Homo sapiens: one gene and its partners. The protein of the gene in region 3 purifies or fractionates together with the protein of the main gene of each other region. This does not show direct contact. Each region holds a gene or a part of one and is shown on either strand. Other genes may lie near its edges. The genes, in order: MTMR9, MPP2 and CDA.

Region 1 (3,827 bases), on a different chromosome or scaffold from region 3:
TACTTTATGTCAGAATAAATATGCTATAAACTATTAAGGTATTCTCCATTCATTTATTCAATGTTTCTAGTCAGTTACTTATAGAACAGTGGGCCAAGAAAAATATGTTTTAAAAACATAAGAGCTCCACAAAACTCCTATGATTCACATCAATTGTCAGATTCAGTTCTATTTTATCATTTTGTCCTTATTGTCCCATCCATGCCCTGTATACATCCCTATCACAGCATTTAAAATACTTTATTAAACTTTCTAGTTTATATGTTTATTTCTTATAATGGTCTTAGTTTTTTCAGGTAGAAGGCATGTTTGATTAATTTCTATATCCTCAGCTCCTAGTACAGCACCTAGCATATACACCATCTTAAAGTTCCACTAAGGGACTTAAAGGAAGATCTGAATAAATAATGTAACATTGTTCATGGATGTCAAGATGTCAATTTGACTCCAATTAATCTATAAATCCAAAACAATTCATTTTTTTAAAATCCTATGAAAATTGTATAAAGTCTGTGGTCTAGTTAATAGTACTGCACCAATGTCAATGTCCTAATTTTGTCCTCATTTTGATTACACTACAGTTATAAAACAGGTCAACATTAGGGGAAGCTGAGTGGACGATTCTAAAACCTCTATGTGCAATTTTTGCAACTGCCTTTGAGTCTTCAATTATTATTAAAGACTTTTAAAAATCCCATGAACATAGCAAGTTTTCCAAAATTGCATGGAAACATAAAGGTCGAAACATAGTTGTCAACTTTAAAAAAAAAAAAAAAAAACGAAAGCGGGGCAACTAGCACTATCCGATTTTTGGACACATCACAAAGCCACAGAAGGAAAGAGAATATGATGATGACAAAAGAGCAGATTAATGAACCAATGGATTATGACAGAGAGCTCAGAAACAGACCCGTATATATAGGATAACTTGACATAAACCAGCCAAGGTTGGGTTGTCACGTGATGGGATTAAGAAAACTGGCTTGCTCTATGGAGAAAAATAGGTTCTTATCACACTTGAAACAAAGATAGAATCCAAATTAAAGACCTAAAAATGAACAGTAAAACTATGAAGCTATTATGGAAGAAAATGTAGGAGAACATCCTGGTGATTTGGGGACAGGGAAGGAGTTCTTAAGACAAGCCACACACCATAAAGCAAAACATTGGCAAGTTCTGCATTAAAAGTAAAGATTTCTGTTCAACAAAGGGCACCACAGAAAAAAACAACAGATGGGTGACACACTAGAAAACATTCGTAATGCCTAAATGGAGAATGAACACCCACAGAGTATACAAGGTACCCATGCAAATCAACATGAGAAGGACAATAAACCCAATGTTTAAAAGTAGACCACAGAAATTAGGCAATTCACAAAAAGGAAAAAAAAAAATTTTAAGTATACTGCTCACAAGCATATACAAAGATAATTAAACACTAATAATTAATGAAATTCAAATTAAAACAAAGCAATAACTATTTCACAATCTTCAGACTGGAAAAATTAGAAAGACAATACCAAATGTTGGTAAGAAAGTGGAGACGAGGTACCCTCTCCTGCACCATCATGGGAAGGCAATGTGCAATTGTCATCCTGGAAAGCAATTAGTTTGTGAAATGAGATACGCACCTACTTTATGGCGCCATCCCATCCTAGGGGCAGTCTCAGAGCAATTATGGCACAAGACTATATAAAGGGACATGAATGAGTATGTTTACCAGAGTTGTTTGTGATAGCAGGGAGTTGGAAGTTACCTAAAAGGTCTGTTAAGGAAGCTCTTTTAGATACTTTGGAATCCTATGCTGTCAGAAGCAGTGAAATGGTTGTACACACAGCAATATGAAGAGATCTTGAAACAGTATTGTGTCACCATATTAAGAAGCAGAACAAGATCTACAACATAATCCCAGTTAGGCAAATTAAACTCACACATGCATGTGTGCGCACACCCATACACAATAGTGCTATCTATTTTATAGCAACAACTAACGTGGTTGCCTACAGGGATTGTGGATGAGGCAGGAAACGGGAGTGAAAATTAGGGAGGAAGAAAATCAACAACAGAGGAAACCTTTTAAGGAATCAATCATGAAAATGATGAGTCATCAACTGAGTAGTAGTAACTCAATTTTCTGAGGTCCATTAAAAAAAAAACCAGGTATAACTGTAAAACTTGTATACAACCTTGCATGTTGAAAGGATCAAATAAAATGATGTAAGCGATATATATGAAAGTATTCCACAGACTTGTGAAGCATTATTTAAACTTAAGTTTCTACGAGGTTAAGTAGTTTGCCCAAAGGCACTTGTCTAGTAAGAGGCAGAACTGAAGGAGTTACCCTTAATGACTTTCTCACCTCATTTACAATTCACCAGCAAGGCAAGGCAGCTCCACTTTCAAAAACACATCCCAAATCAGATTCCTTGTGACTACACTACTGTTTTTTGTTTGTTTGTTTGTTTGTTTTGAGACAGAGACTCACTCTGTCACCCCAGGGTGGAGTTCAGTGGTGCAATCTCAGTTTACTGCAACCTCGGCCTCCCAGGGTGAAGTGATTCTCCTGCCTCAGCCTCCTGAGTAGCTGGGATCAGAGACATGCACCACCAAACCCAGCTATTTTTTGTATTTTCAGTAGAGATGAGGTTTCACCATACTGGCCAGGCTGTGTCGAACTCCTGACCTCAGGTGATCTGCCCGCCTCGGCCTCCCAGAGTGCTGGGATTACAGGCGTGAGCCACCGTGCCCGGCCTACCATCATCTTTTATGTGAACTACTCTACTCTCCAAGCTGGGCCTGCTGCTTCCAGTCTTGCCCCCCTACAGTTTATTTTCTGCCAGCAGCCAGAATTGTCTTCTGAAACATCTATCAGCTGCTGCTTCCTAGCTTTCACCTCTCCAAGGGCTCCCATGAAAACCATTACTGTGGCCTGCAGGCCCTCCACGGTCTGACCACTGCTTATCCCTCCAGCCAGTCTCTACCATCAACTTCCTGTACTCTCTGTTCCCTGCCCTGCAGCCACACTGGCCTCTTCGCTCTTCTCTGCACATGCCAAGCATGTTCCCCATCTCAAGTCTTTGTATTCGCTGTTCCCTCTGGCTGCAATGCTCTTCCCCCAGACACTCACAGTTCTAGCTTCCTCATTTCATTCCGGTCTGTAGTCAGATGTCACCTGCCTTCTCTGAAATCCTTTCTAAGGAAACTGCCTCCCAGTGCTCTTTATCCTCTCATCTTCCGTTACTTTCCTTCCTGGCCCTTATTACCTGACATCATTATATATATATTATATATATATAAATATATTATATATTTATGTATATATATTATATATACATATTATAATATATATTATATGCTATATTATACTATATTATAATATATAATTATTATAATATAATTATTATTATTATATATTATAATTATTAATATATTATATATAATAATTACATGTATTAGGTGAATAGGTGAATAAATAATTATTCACCTATTCGCTGAATAATTAGGTGAATATTTAGGTGAATAATTATTTAATATAATTAGGTGAATAATTATATATATTATATAGGTGAAATATAATATATATTATATAATACGTATTATATAATATATATTATATATCATACGTATTATATACTATGTATTATATGTAATATATATTATATAATACATATATAATACATAGTATATAATACGTATGATATATAACACATATTATATAATATATAATACATATTATGTTATATATAATACGTATTATATATGTTATATATTATAATATAATATATAACATATATAATAAAATATATAATGTTATATATTATATATTA
Region 2 (3,827 bases), on a different chromosome or scaffold from region 3:
CCACAGATTGCCCGATCCCCAGCATGTCAGTGTCGGTGGGGATGGGGAGGAGGCGGCTAACAGGAAGTTTTGAGGAGGGGGTAGGCATGCTGCCCCTTCAAGACTGGCGCGGTACTCCGAGACCCTCCCCTCACAGCCAGCTTCAGGAGACCCGAGGGAGAAAAGTCTTGGCCCATCTTGTCCCTGTACCCTCTTTTCTAGAAGCCCCTCCTCTAATACACCCCATGCCACCTCCTCCCTATGCCCTCTGACCTCTGCTCTCAGTCCCCTCTCCAGGCCCTGTTTCCTTTACAATAGTCCCTCAGTCTAAGGAAGTCCCCAAGAACGACTCAGCCCTCCACCGGGAGGCAGCCTCACTTGGGCATGGGGCAAATACCTCAAGCCTCAGACGCCTCCCCCTACCCACCCTTGGTCAGCCACTGGGAGGCAGGGTACGTGGGGGAGGTGGCATCGCTGTGGGTAGGGATGGTGCCCCAGCCCTGCTTACCCCTCGCCTCACAGCAGCTTCTTCCCCTCCCCCATCTCCCATGAGTTCTTCCTCTTAATGAAGGGGATGATGCCCAGGAAGCAAGTCAGGCATCTTGGAACTCAGTTCCCCAGAAAGGAAAAATGAGGGCACATTTGCACACAGGGAAAAGTGTGGGCAGAAGGGAAGGACTCAGCTCCGCTCCGGTGACCCCATTCCTCTGAGATCTTGTGCCCAAGAGGCCACCATCAGGGTACTGCAGCCTCCACTCAGACATTCCCTGAGGAGTGGCACCAGGTCGCATTGCACCCCTGGTTGCCATGACAGTAGAATTACACACCAGGACAGTAACCCAGGGATGGAGGAGAGATTTAAAGGGACAGCTCCACCTGAAAGCAGCCACATATCCCAGCCTTGATCCAAAAAAGGGAGGGAATCTGGTGACAGGGGAAGAGGGAGCAAGGCTGCAGGTCAGGAGATGCCAGGTTCAGGATCTCTAAGTTCTCAGCCCAGTGCCACTGTCCATTTATCTCCCAAGTCTCAGGAAAAGGGCCCCTGACTCTACCCAAAGTAGATATGGGGTCTCCCTGCAAGAGGAATACACCCATACCCTTTCCCTCCCTTCAACCATACTGACCCATGGGGAAGGGCGGAAAAAGGATCTTATTAGCTTTGCCCTTTGCAGAGTCCAAGGCAGGGATCTCCCAGGGGAGGAGGAGGGAAGGGGAGCCTGAACTCAGAGGCAGGGACACAGCTGTCTCTCTATCCTGTGGGAAGTATAATGACCACCAGATAATAAGGGGCAGAATCCACCATTAGATTTTTGAAGCTGGGAGCTAATGTAGCTCAGGATAGGACAGAGGCTGCCTGAAGGAAGAAAAACACTTTGTACTTCTTCCTTTGAATATGAGAAGCCAGGAGCAGCCCCTCGAACAACATGAAGGGGAGCAGGAGCCCCAGGAGTCCTTTGAGGAAGCAGAACCCACCGCCACACCCCAAGGCTCCACTCCCTGTCCCCCATCCTCCCCCACCACGCCCCCATCAAGTGGTCTGCAACAACGAAGCCAAATTGCTGGGCTTGCTCCTCCTCCTACGCCCCAGTCAGGCACTATTGGTGGGTTTACTGGGCAGTCCCGGCTGGAGAGGCCATTAAGCACAGGCTCAGGGGTGGGTTTAATTAATGCCTAAGCAGCTTACAGTGGGGCCTAGGCAGGCTGAAAGAGGCAGGGAGACCCCAGGGAGCCCAGCAGGCTGGACAGGAGATGGGGGACTGAGCCCTCTGATGCTGCAGAAGCTGGGGACATTGGTGCCATCCCTCCACTGCAAGGAGAAGAGGCCTTTCCTGGACAAGTGTACCACAGTTTAGGCCCTGGCTCACTCCCTTCACTTTCTCGGAGAGGAGGCACAGAGGAATCATTCTACCCAAAGTGGCAGCCCTGGAACCTCTGGCAGAGGCAGTAGTGGGGCCTAGAGCAAGGGAAGGAGCTGCATGGGAGGGAGGCATCCAGGCAGGGGGAAGTTCAGACAACTCAGAGCAGAACCATAGCAGTTCCCAGCTGCCCGGGCCTCAGAGGGCCTCTAGCACAGGGAACTTAACCTTCTGGGGTCCTGCGTGCACTACGGGAATCCATGATCCCCTAGAGTAGAATATACCTTTTGTGCATGGATGTATATGTCTACGATGAGGGCTCACTGCTGTCACCAGATTCTAAGTGACTCAGGACCAATAAAATTAAGAACAGGCCAGGTGTGGTGGCTCATGCCTGTAATCCCAGCACTTTGGGAGGCCAAGGCAGGTGGATCACCTGAGGTCAGGACAGCCTGGCCAACATGGTGAAACCCAGTCTCTACAAAAATACAAAAATTAGCTGGGCATGATAGCAGGTGCCTGTAATCCCAGCTACTTGGGAGGCTGAGGCAGGAGAATCACTTGAACCTGGGAGGTGAAGGTTGCAGTGAGCCGAGATCCCACCACTGCCCTCCAGCCTGGGCAACAGAGGGAGACTCCATCTCAAAAAAAAAAAAAAAGAAAAAGAAAAAAGTTAAGAACACTGATCTTGTCCCATCATCTCATCTTAGGGAAATCTCAGGTCTTCAAAAGGAGGTGACTGTTTCAAGGACACAGGGTTAATGCCAAAATAACAACTCAGGCCAGGCACAGTGGTTCACACCTGTAATCCCAGTAGTTTGGGAGGTCGAGGCGGGTGGAGTACTTGAGCTCAGGAGTTTGAGACCAGCATGGGCAACATTTTTGTCTTTACGAAAAATACAAAAATTAGCTGGGCATGGTGGTGCACACCTGTAGTCCCAGCTACTTGGGAGGCTGAGGTGGGAGAATGACTTGAGGCTGGTAGGCAGAGGTTGCAGTGAGCCAAGCTTGCGCCACTGCACTCCAGCCTAGGCTAAAGAGCCAGAACTTGTCTCAAAAACAACAACAACAACTTGGTGGCAGCGGCAGCAACAGCAGCATAATAATTATGACTATTCCTAAAAGTAATGTGCTCTCCCATTACAGCCTTTGCGTCTCACAGCAGCCTCTTTACAGAAGAAGAAATGCGAGCTCCAAGAGGTTAAGCAGTTTGCCACTGAGGCTTTGCTAGTTTGTCTGAGTGGCCCACTCCCTTGTCCTAATGCCTCCTACAGAGCCACGTCCAGGTATCCTAACCTGGTATTCTTGTTCCTTCACTCACAGCTTCCTGGTCCCCAGTACCCCCTGTCCACCTCTGGCACATGCTGGCCTAGTGGGCAGCGATTATGGACTTCTCAGCCCCAGGCTGTGCTGCTGTAATCCCTCCACCCCCAAGCCATTCTCCAAGGCCCAGCTCCGGGGCCACCTCCTGAAGGCCTGGTCCTATGCCACTGCCCTCCAGCAATAGTACGGGTCACCTCTGGAGCATGCATCCCCTGCCCTCCACGGAGGTGAGTTGTGCTCCAGCCCTACACTGGAGCAGGTATGGGTCTTATTCTTTCTCTTCTCCGTTCCAGCACAGGAACCCACACAGAGGAGATGGCCACAGCAGCTGCCAGAAGGAATGGCTGAGTGGTAGGGTGGACAGCAGTGGAGCCAGTTGGTTCTTATCTGGAGCTGTGCAAGTGCCCACCCCTAAGTCCTCGCCTGGCACCCTCTGAACCACTGAAATAAGCTAACATCCTCACCCCCTTCTTACCAGTTTCAGAGTTGGTGGCGGCAACCGGCATGGTGAAGGAGGCAAGGGCTCTGAAACGTCTCTCCTGGAGAGGGGAGAGAGGAGGATGAGCAGATACAAGGGCAAAGCAATGGGGAAGGGAATAGGAAGAGCCTCCCCTTCAGGACGAGCCAGAAAGGTAGGGGAGAAGGTGCTGCCCAGAAAGTGGGGGTTGG
Region 3 (3,600 bases):
GGCTAATTTCTGTATTTTTTGTAGAGATGGGGTTTCACCCTGTTGCCTAGGCTGGTCACAAAATGAGCCACTTTTGAGTGACAGTGGAGAGGACTAACTGAAGTTCCTTGGCAGGGGGAAACAGCGGGAAACGGGGCGTGATGGGAGCTGGGCTGTAAGCTGAAGACCCAGGTTAGAGAAGCTTGCTCTTACCTAGACCAGAGATGCTGTGGTGTTGGGGGGATGGGGCCTGGGGTCCATCAGCTGCTGAAGAGAGGGGCTGGTGTCAGGCACCAAGAAATGCTTCTAGGAAAATGCATCCAGGCAGAGAAAGGGAGACCAGGGACAGAATCAGAACAGCAGGGGGTGGTTTGAGGGAAAATGGAAGACTCAGATTTAAGAATTAAGCCAAGGTAGGCTGGATTCAGTGGTTACTTAACCAAGACATCCTCAAGTGTCTTCTAAAATGTGGTGTGTTCCTCTCAGAATTCACCCCAGCTGGTTGAGTAAAGTGGCTTTTTCCCTAAATGGCAGACGGAGAGGAAAGGAGGAGGAAAGAGGGAGAGAGACCACTGTCCTAAGGTCATGAGCTGAAGAAGATAAACCCTCCCATCCCTTGGGTTGTGCCAGCAGAGTTGGCAGAAACTACAGCCAAGAAGTCTTGTGTCTGGGCACCATCCTGGGACCCTTTCTGGCACTGTCGTGGTCTCATCGCCAGATGCATACTCCCCACGAGCCCAGGGACACCTCGTGCAGTGCCCCTAGGGTTACAGGTGGTCCTTCTCTTCCCTGCCCATCACCCACCCGGCGCTGCACGAACACCGGCTGAGCCTCAGCCATGTGCAAGGCCCGGAGCTGACTCCGTTTCCGTGGACCATTTTCTTTGCTTTCTTTCTTTTCTTTTATCTTTCTTTCTTTTTTTTTTTTTTGAGATGGCGTCTCGCTCTGTCGCCCAGGCTGGAGTGCAGTGGTGTGATCTCGGCTCACTGCAACCTCCACCTCCCAGGTTCAAGCGATTCTCCTGCTTCAGCCTCCTGAATAGCTGGGATTACAGGCACCTACCACCATACCTGGCTAATTTTTTGTATTTTTAGTAGAGATGGGGTTTTACCATGTTGGCCAGGCTGGTCTCGAACTCCTGATCTCAGGTGATCCGCCCAGCTCGGCCTCCAAAAGCACCGGGATTACAGTCATGAGCCACCGCGCCTGGCCCATTTTCTTTGCTTTCTCAATCCTCCTTCTGTGCCATCTCCACTCTCCTCTTTGTGTCCTCACTTTTTTTTTTCCCTTAGCAGCTCTTTCCTCACCAGTGAGCTCCTCTTTCTGTACCTCTCCCTCGGCTCTCCCCACAAGCAGTCACGAATGTTACCAGCCCGAGGTGCATCATGAAAACCTAATTGCTGTAGTTGTTAATCACCATCCTGGGTGGCCCATCTGTGAGGGGCACAAGGCCCTGGCCAGGGTTGGGAGTAACAGAGAGAAAATGATGATCATTATGAAGTCTCGATAGCAAGGCCGTCTTTGCAGCCAGGCCTGCTTTTGAATTGGATGGGACACCAGCTGCCTTGGAGGGGGAAGCCTTCACCTGTGCCGGTCTTGTGTTTAGCTGGAGAAAGTCACAGACCTGGGCAGACCTGTTCTGCCATAAGCTGTAAACTCACAGTGTCTAAACTCAGCTGTGCCGTTTCTGCCTCCTGATCAGCTCTGCTTCACCCCATGAAACCACACCAGGCTTCCTCTGGGTGTCCAGGTGCCCCCTGCTCCAAGCCCCAACTTACTGCATCCACCCCCTATTCTGCACCTGGCCTCACTTCCTACTTCAGTAATGTGTGAATGATAAACAGGCCAGGTGCAGTGGCTCATGCCTGTAATCCCAGTACTGTGTGAGGCCAAGGTGGGAGGATCATTTGAGGTCAGGAGTTCGAGACCAACCTGGGCAACGTAGCAAGACCTCATCGCTATAAAAATAAAAAAGATTAGCTGGGCATGGTGGTACATACCTGTAGTCCCAGCTACTTGGGAGGCTAAGACAGGAGGATAGCTTGAACTCAGGGGTTTGAGACTGCAGTGAACTAGGCTCGCGCCACTGTACTTCCAGCATGGGCAGCAGAGAGACCCTGCCTTTAAAACAAAAACAAAAACAAAAGAATGGAAACCAGAGACTGCTTGCACTCATGTTCCCTGATGCCCAGAAAAAGCCCACCTGCAGGACAAGAGAAAGAGACCTGCACCCAGAAGGATAAAGAAGGATGTGGTGATGTTTGTGTTCCTGGATCCAGCTACCCTGAGACAAGCACTACCCTTGCCCGCTCTGGTTCTGGTTGCTTTCTGACGTTGACCATAGGAAGTACTCTGATTAGTGCATGTGAAACTCATTGTCCCCCATCATGAGGTGGCTGTGATATTACAGGAGGTCATCTAAATGAAGTCCTTAGTGAGCTCACTCCATTGTAGCTTCGAATACTGCTGCTGGTCCCTGCCCAGCACGTCCCCAGCACACAGTCCAGCCATGCCTTCAATGCCTCACCTCAGTCAGTGCCTCATCATCATTCACCTGGGCCACCTGGCTGGCGATCCTAAAGCCATGTGCCTTTACTTTATTTCTTATTTTGTTTTTTATTTTTTGAGACAGGGTCTCATTCTGTCGCCCAGCTGATGTACAGTGGTGTGATTACAGCTCACTGCAGCCTCGAACTCCTGGGGCTCAAGTGATCCCTCCATCTCAGCTTCCCAAGTGTCTGGGACCACAGATGCACGCCACCACATCCAGCTCATTTTTGTACTTTTTGTAGACACGACGTCTTGCCATGTTGTCCAGGCTGGTCTCGAACTCCTGGACTCAAGGGATCCTCCAGCCTCATCCTCCCAAAGCACTGGGATTACTGGCATGAGCCACCGCACCCAGCCTTTATTTGTAACACTGCCCATGCCAGGCCCGGTCCATGTGTCCCACACAATATCTCTCGGATCATTCCTTTCTCTTCATTCTACCTGTCCCAGTCCTAGTAGAAGCCTTTCATTCATGTGTTCAACAAACCTTACAGAGGCCCAGTGATAGGCCAGGAAGTGTGCTGACACTGCAGACAGGTCAGTGAGTGGAGCAGATACTGTACCCTGACACTGTTCCTCTGTCCCCGCCCTTGCTGAGCACCTGTCACACTAAATGTCATCACACACCACTTTTATGTTACTCTTCTTCTTAATAACATTCCTTGGCTCCCTACTTCCTACCTCTTCAAATCTTAGTGTCTCTGTTTGGCCTCCAAAAGTCCTCCACAATCTGCCTCCAGATAATAAGAATAATGATAGCATTAATAGTGGTAGCAGAAGCAGCTATCATTTGTGACCTTCTTATTACGAGGCAGAAAATGCGCTGAATGCTTTATAAGCATTTACTCATTTAAAGCCTCACAACCAGGGGTGAAATTCTACATACTCAGCGCAGGCACCAACCGATCAGAGTGAATGCTGCCTGCCATGCCGTGTCGTGCCAGGCATACCAGCATACCAGCTGAATCTGGTTCTGTTCACAGTCATCCTGAAAGGTGGGTTTTATGATCCCTGGCTTAAAATGTGTGAGCTGGCTGGGTGCGGTGGCTCATGCCTGTAATCCCAGCACTT

What was found.
Region 1: the proteins of CDA (region 3) and MTMR9 purify together in Homo sapiens (co-immunoprecipitation; 3 studies listed by BioGRID and IntAct, with this or other methods). This does not show direct contact.
Region 2: the proteins of CDA (region 3) and MPP2 purify together in Homo sapiens (affinity purification with mass spectrometry; 3 studies listed by BioGRID and IntAct, with this or other methods). This does not show direct contact.

Annotation. Positions count from the first base shown.
Region 1 is NC_000008.11:11,287,816-11,291,642, reverse strand, and holds part of MTMR9 (myotubularin-related protein 9), read right to left. Parts: intron 1-3,827. UniProt on the Homo sapiens protein: Acts as an adapter for myotubularin-related phosphatases. Increases lipid phosphatase MTMR6 catalytic activity, specifically towards phosphatidylinositol 3,5-bisphosphate and MTMR6 binding affinity for phosphorylated phosphatidylinositols.
Region 2 is NC_000017.11:43,900,797-43,904,623, forward strand, and holds part of MPP2 (MAGUK p55 subfamily member 2), read right to left. Parts: intron 3,698-3,827; coding exon of another isoform or gene 3,665-3,697; coding exon 3,634-3,664; intron 769-3,633; exon of another isoform or gene 488-768; intron 1-487. UniProt on the Homo sapiens protein: Postsynaptic MAGUK scaffold protein that links CADM1 cell adhesion molecules to core components of the postsynaptic density. In CA1 pyramidal neurons, required for synaptic KCNN2-containing channel function and long-term potentiation expression.
Region 3 is NC_000001.11:20,592,097-20,595,696, reverse strand, and holds part of CDA (cytidine deaminase), read right to left. Parts: intron 1-3,600. UniProt on the Homo sapiens protein: This enzyme scavenges exogenous and endogenous cytidine and 2'-deoxycytidine for UMP synthesis.